2 linked regions of the Homo sapiens genome follow. The protein of the gene in region 2 purifies or fractionates together with the protein of the main gene of each other region. This does not show direct contact. Each region holds a gene or a part of one and is shown on either strand. Other genes may lie near its edges.

Region 1 (3,821 bases), on a different chromosome or scaffold from region 2:
AGCATGTAAAAGAGCAGACTATTCTAACAGTGTGATGACTCTGCAGTGAAGAAAAGAATCCACTCTCCCGGCACACTGATAGAGCATGTACCTGGGCATAGTATTCCTCAAAGGAGAATGGTCATAAAAATGATACTGCAGAATTCAAATAGCATTCAAGAGGTCTCCACTAAATGGGGACATGTAGGCTATCTGAAGTTATTATAGATTTCCTTATTTCAGGAATCTTCAAGGCAAAATATACGATGTGATACATGAAATCATGAAATAGCCAGTAACATACATGATGAAATTATCTTACTAGAAAGTTACACATCAGGAAAAAAAAAAAAAGAGAGTTTAAAAGAAAAAAAAGGCAATGGGTACAAAACTACTCTATCTCAAGTTGGAGTGAAAAAATACAGCGTTAGCATTTATCCATGATAGAAAGGCAGCACAGAAAAGAACTCAAGACAGAATGAACCTGTAACCAGGCTCCTTAATTAGAACATAATTCTAAGACCAAAGTCTGGGTAGAATCTGTACACAGAATAGTTTTTATAGCCATTGACTGCATGTGTTAAAAAGTACTTTGTAACAAGAGTACAATAAATGGGAAAAATCTTAGAGGTCATCTGAAAGCCTGATCCCAATGCTGTCCTTTGTGGGTGAGTAGTGTCATGTTGGTATGTTGTACTCAAACTGAAGTGGCTTGAACAGCTGGTCAGCACAGTGAAAAAGGCAGCCAATTAGGAATATATTGTACATTTAGTTCCACTGGATACTTTAATATATAAACTGCATGAACTATTATATCTTATGGGGACTGAACACCCCATATTATCACTTTAAAAAGTATTCTAAGCTTCCATTTTCTACAAAAAAGAAAAACATCGACTTTTAAAAAGTAAACGTCAAGAAGCTTACTTTCAGATACAATATGAGACTAAAAACCGGATACTAATTAGATAAACAGTAGTGTTAACATGATGTAAACAGAAGAATTTTAAGAAAATTTCCCTTAATTTAACAATTAAGCAAAATAATAATTATGCATTTAGAGTTCATATGGTAATTTTCAAGTAAGTGTGTTTATTCCCCCACCACATACAAACCCAGCCTTGGTGCTCACATCTCTCTCCAAGGATGATCACATTGTCCCCAATTACTACAGGACAGTAACTTTGCCTTTCTCTTCAAATTGCTGATTCTGACTGCTTGGACAACATAACCGTTTTTGGTTCTTGGTCTGTGGGACTGTCAGCTGGTATCTATAAAAACAATCAGAAGATTAAAAATGTATAGCATCTGGCATATCCTATTATAACAGATCAACAGTTGACTCGGGAGAAAAATAGCTAAATAAAAAAATATGGTTTCACATTTATTCTATACATACTTCTCAACAGTATAATCATAAAAATATTACTTACAGCTTTAACATCAACATTTGTAATTCCTATATTTATGTTGTGTCTTCGCAGATCAGACTTGATTAATGCTGAAACAGAGGGGCATCAAGTTACTATAAACTGTTATGTGAAGATTTTTTTAAAAAGCAGCTCAAAGTCTTTCTTGGTATTGTCAAATTTAATGCACTGTAGTGTCATGATATTTAATAGCATCCCAACAGCCTAAAAAATAATAGTACCTCTCTAAAGTTGTTAACAATTAATAAGTCATTCATTATTGAACAAATACGGGAATGCTAGCAACCAATGATACAAAAATGAAAAGTGTAATTCTTTTTCTTAAAGGACTCTCCAATCTAGGGAAACTTTGACATGTAAACAAGTATAACAGTGTGTGATAATTGCAAGGTATGGTGGGGAAGTGGGAGCAAAAAAAGTCTATGTCAGCCAAAGGAAATTAGAGAAGGCTTTCCAGAGAAGACATACTTGATACTGGAAAAAACTGAGTAATAACTTGTCAAGCAGACAAGAGGAGAGGAAGGCATTCTAGGCAGAAGGGAATGCAGGTATATCTCAGAGACATTGTGGGTTCAGCTCCAGATCACCACAAAAGAGTGAATATTGCTGGGCGTGGTGGGTCATGCCTGTAATCCCAGCACTTTGGGAGGCCGAGGTGGGTGGATCACAAGGTCAGAAGATCGAGACCATCCCGGCCAACACGGTGAAACTCCATCTCTACTAAAAACACAAAAAATTAGCCAGGCGTGGCGGCACGCACCTGTAGTCCCAACTACTAGGGAGGCTGAGACAGAAGAATCACTTGAACCTGGGAGGTGGAGGTTGCAGTGAGCAGAGATCGCACCACTGCACATATTTTTTGGTTTTCCAGTGCATAAAAAGTTATGTTTATACTATACTGTAGTCTATTTAAAGTTTGCAATAGCATTATGTCTAAAAAAAAAAATCAATCTACATGCCTTAATTTAAAAACACTTTACTGGCCAGGCTCAGTGGCTCATGCCTGTAATCCTAGCACTTTGAGAGGCCGAGGCGGGTGGATCACTTGAGGTCAGGAGTTCGAGACCAGCCTAGCCAACATAGTGAAACCCCCATCTCTACTAAAATACAAAAATTAGCTGGTTGTGGTGGTGGGCATCTGTAATCCCAGCTACTCAGGAGGCTGAGGCAGGAGAATCACTTGAACCCAGGAGGCAGAGGTTGCAGTGAGCCCAGATGGCGCCATTCCACTCCAGCCTGGGCAACAAGAGCGAAACTCCATCTCAAAAAAACAAAACAAAACAAAAAACACTTTACTGCTAAAAAATGCTAATGATTATCCAAGCCTTCTGCAAGTTATCTTTTTGCTGGTGGAGGGTCTTGCCTTGATGTTGATGGCTGCTGACAGATCAGGGTGGTGGTTGCTAAAAGGTGGGAGCGGCTGTGGCAATTTCTTAAAGTAAGACAGTGACGAAGTTTGCCGTATTAATCAACTCTTCCTTTCATGAAAGATCTCTCTGTGTGCAATACTTGTTTGATAACATTTTACCCACAAAACTTCCTCAAAACAGGAGTTGATCCTCTCAAACCCTGCCACTGCTTCATCAGCTAAGTTTATATAATATTCTAAATCCTTTGTTGTCATTTCAACATTTACAGCATCTTTACTAGTAGATTCCAACTCAAGAAAACACTTTCTTTGCTTATCCATAAGAAGCAACCCAGCCAGGCGCAGTGGCTGACACCTGTAATCCCAGCACTTTGGGAGGCCGAGGCAGGCAGATCACAAGGTCAGGAAATCAAAACCATCCTGGCTAACATGGTGAAACCCCGTCTCTACAAAAAATACAAAAAATTAGCCGGGCGTGGTGGCGGGCACCTGTAGTCCCAGCTACTCAGGAGGCTGAGGCAGGAGAATGGCCTGAACCCGGGAGGCAGAGCTTGCTGTGAGCCGAGATCACGCCACTGCACTCCAGCCTGGGCAACACAGCAACATTCCGGCACCCCCCCCCAAAAAAAAAGAAGCAACCCTTCATTTCTTCAGGTTTTACCATAAGATGCAGCAATTCAGTTACCTCTTCATATTCCACTTCTAATTCCAGTTCTCTTGTTATTCCCACCACATCTGCAGCTATTTCCTCCACTGAAGTCTTGAACACCTCAAAATCATCCATGAGAATGGGAATTAACTTCCTCCAAACTCCTGTTAATGTTGATAGTTTGACCTCCTCCCATGAATCAAGAATGTTCTTAATGGCATCTAGGATGGTGCATCCTTTCCAGAAAGTTCTCAATTTACTTTGCTCAGATCCAAGAGAGGAATAATTATTTCTGGCAGCTACAGCCTTTTGAAGTGTATTTCTTAAAGAATAAGACTTGAAAGTTGAAATTACTCCTTGATCCACGGGCTGCAGAAGGGATGCTGTGTTTCCA
Region 2 (3,821 bases):
TATTCTGAAGATCTTTGCTTCTACTCTTTCCCTTTTCTTCTCCAATTTCAATATCCCACTCTTATCTTGAGCCATATACTTTTCCTTCTGTCTCGAAAAAAACTTTCACTTGACCCTTTTGCTACATTGTATGTCCACAGTTCAAAGAACAAAAAAGCATCTATGCCCATTGTTTCCACTTTCTTATCTTCCTCCTAAGCTCTGTGCAGTCTGTGTCCACTGCCATAACTGTTTGGAAAGTATCTCTAGGTATCCAAGGGTGTCTTCTCATTCCTTCTTCTCTGAGCTGACCCCTCCTTCCTGAAGCTCCTTTTCTTTCCTTTGTGGCCCACCATACTGGTCTAGCTCCCATCTCTCCAATAGTACTCTCTCTTCCCTGGCTCCCTTCTGCCCTCAGTCTTTGGACTTCTCTTTCTGTAGTCCATTCTTCCTACCTGCTTTTAACCCAAGAGACTATCCAGGCTCACACTGATGATAATCACCCTCCTCCCACTCACACTAAATCAAAACAATGGGATCACTGTGTAATCCCCCACTTTCTTTCTTTATATCCAATCAGTCACCAAATCCTCTAGAAACAGCATGAACTATCATCACTAGGGTGAAGTTGCCTAAATCCTTGTGCCTGGCTCTTCCTTTCCATTTCTACCTCTATCTCAGGGCCTCAAAAATGCTCATTTAGTTTCCTCAACACCCCCAGACTGACCTTCAAAACTGCTGACTCTACGCACAACCATCAAAATACTTGCTCTATGCACAATTGTCATAAGAGTTGGATGGCCTCAGTAGCTCTTTTTTTTTTTTCTATTATGTCAAATGTTTCACCTTCGCCTGGCTTCTTAGAAATAATCAGGCTCAACCTTATGTCTTCAGTCTCACTTTTACCTCCCACTGCACCCCACCTTGCCTCCCAAATCCTCAATTAAATAGATCAGCCTCCTCACTGACTCCACGAAGGAATCACACCATTCCAGGTCCTCCCCCTGGCTCAGCATTTCCAACGCCCCATAGCTTCACCTCCACTTGTGTGAATTAACCATGTTTCAAGGCTGGCTTAGCTCACCTTCTCTCATTCTCTCCTCTCTGAGCCTCTCCTTAACCAGATCTTAACCGGCCCCTAAAGGCCACATCAGTTAAACTCCTGAGCAGACTGTTTAAAACTAAATTTTAGAACACCTCATAATGATAATCAATTCTTCTTTTGTACTTATCCTTTGGTAATTTTGTGGCTCTTTTGACAGTAGGGCCCAAATATGCAGATAGCATTACATTGTTTAACCACAAGAGTGATAGCTCCAGTGTTTTTATTTAGTTACTCACTCACTACAAATACCTGGCAAAACTTCTAGCTGCCTGGCCCTGTGATAGGTCCTGAGAAACAAAGGTGAATAAAGCATGGTCCTGTTCTAAAGAGGCTCACAATCTTCAACACAGAGTGATAAATGCTGAGAGCATGAGGAAACGAAAGTAGGGAGAGCAGGGCTTCACCTAACTCATAACTAGGGTGTCGGTGAAGACTTCCTGGAAGAGATAATAAAGCCAACATTTGAAAAACATGTAAGTTTTCCAGGTTCAGTGTGGGGGATGGTTGCAGGCACAGGGAGCAGCATAGGCAAAGAACTGAGGAATATTCCTGGAAGCAGCAGTGAGTCAGCATGGCTTGGGGGTAAGGGAGAGAAGGAATGTACGGGAGATAAGGCTGGAGAAGTGTGTAGGGGTCAGATCACAAGGTGCTTGCAAAGCTTTACTAAAGATTAGGGACTAGATTCTGATGACCTGGCAAGCCACTGGGTCACTGACAAGCATTTAAATACAGACAGTAGCATAGTTAGTTAGCCCTTGGTTTAGAAAAGTTCCCTCTAGTAAAAATAAAGAGTAAATAAAATGAGGGCAATCCTAGAGATAGGAGGACTGGTTAAGGGGCTCTGAGACTAATCCAGATTAACAGTAAGAAAGACCAGGCCTACTTCTGTCTTCCCAGCACTGGCTCTGCTGCTCCATTTCCCACCCCCAGCTAATGTCCCTGACTTTCACATCAATAATTTTCCCTTAAGGTAGGGTTGTTTCCTATATCACACAGGTGTCCTCTCTTCCCAACCTGCAACCTTCCTCTAAGGGATGATTGGCTAGAGTTGGAGGCAGGCCAGGTCCAACTGTGTCTTCGCCAGTGCATCCCTCACCTGGATGACTGGTGTGTGTGGAGAGGCAGGATGAGGTCCTAGGTAGGCTCTGAAGAAAGGGAAATGGCCATACTGACTCATCAGAAGTCTCAGCGTTCGGTTAAAGTTTAAGGAAGTCCATTTACCAGAGATGCGCCAGCCTCCAAGCTTTAAAGGAGAGAGAGGGGGCTGAGCATAAGGATCCGTGGAGCCCATCCCCCATTGTCTGGATCGGCTCTTACACAGCTGCTACTGCCTGACCTCTGCCCTGCGCCCTTCGATTCCTCTAGGAAGCCACATCTATCCTTTTTTATCTGCCTTCTCCCAAGGTCCTGATACTTTCATAGGGCATAACCATTTCCATCTCCATCTCCCTCCTAGAAATTGGGGGGCCCTAGGAAGAAGACCCACCCTCTAGAAAAAAAAATGGCAGCCCTAAGCATGCATTGGTCCCATATGTTATGTATCCAGAAAAGTTAATATCCCAACTTTTCTCACCTCCTCAATAACTTGTCTGAGGGGACCAGTCCCTGCAGCTTCAATGGCAAGTGTATCCATGCAGGAGTTGTAGAACTGGAAGGCTTTCTCCTCCCCAGAGCCTGGGTGCCAGGAATTCTGGACCTCTAGAAAGGAAGCATGGGAGTGAGGACTAAACTCTGATTTTTTTTATCTTGCCCCAAATTCCTATCAAAGGGGTCTGGGGAGTCATGCCCTATATCATAAGTTCTCATCAGATGGGTTTTATTTAACCCATGTAACATGATTTACTTTCTAACCTGATTCTGGCATAACATTACGAGACAAAGAAGAAAACAAAAATATTTTACCCCAAAACATGTTTCTTTGCCACATTTTGAAATGGCCCTGCAAAGCTGTTCTTTGTGGAGGAAAATTTGCATCTGTAAAGCATCTCTATTAGCTATTAACATATCTCATTAACATAGCTAGATCTTTTGATTAACTAAGATCTGAATAGGAAACATTTGTCACCTATTGTCTCTAAGGGCAGCCACTATAAGACTTCAAAAGAACTTCGGTCTCCGCAATCTTTATCTTACCCTGAACATTCCCTTTCTATCTATCCCAGATCTTTAGACAAACTCAAGCAACTGTCAATCCGGAAATGTTTAAATTCACCTGTACCCTGGAAGCCACCCCCACCCCTTTGAGTTGTTCCACCTTTCTGGACCAAACCAATGTATTTCTTAAATGTATTTGATTGATGTCTCATGACTCTCTAAAATGTATAAAACCAAGCTGTGCCCCAGCCACCTTGGGCACATGTTCTCAGGATCTCCTGAGGACTGTATCATGGGCCATGGTCACTCATATTTGGCTCAAAATAAATCTTTTCAAATATTTTACAGAGTTTGACTCTTTTTGTCGGCAGGAGAATTAAAGGAGTGGCAACTGGTATAGAGGCAAAGAGGGAGGGTGGGAGACAGGGAGCTTACAGGAAAGAAAGACTCCCACAGAATATGGAAGGAGGGGGAGGAATAGAGATGAGGAAAATAAGAAAGATGAGAGGACTGCCCAATTTGGAATGGATCAACTTGATGAAATGATGAAAGCAGGGAAAGAGAATGAGGAGAAGAAGACAATATGGAAAATAAAAGAAATGTGGGGAAGAAACCAAGAAGGAAAAGACAGGGAAGAAAGGAG

The links.
Region 1: the proteins of KEL (region 2) and FLVCR1 purify together in Homo sapiens (affinity purification with mass spectrometry; one large-scale study listed by BioGRID and IntAct). This does not show direct contact.

Annotation. Positions count from the first base shown.
Region 1 is NC_000001.11:212,892,645-212,896,465, reverse strand, and holds part of FLVCR1 (choline/ethanolamine transporter FLVCR1), read right to left. Parts: intron 1,481-3,821; coding exon 1,413-1,480; intron 1,251-1,412; coding exon 1,176-1,250; 3' UTR 1-1,175.
Region 2 is NC_000007.14:142,955,647-142,959,467, forward strand, and holds part of KEL (kell blood group glycoprotein), read right to left. Parts: intron 2,783-3,821; coding exon 2,658-2,782; intron 2,328-2,657; coding exon 2,181-2,327; intron 1-2,180. UniProt on the Homo sapiens protein: Zinc endopeptidase with endothelin-3-converting enzyme activity. Cleaves EDN1, EDN2 and EDN3, with a marked preference for EDN3.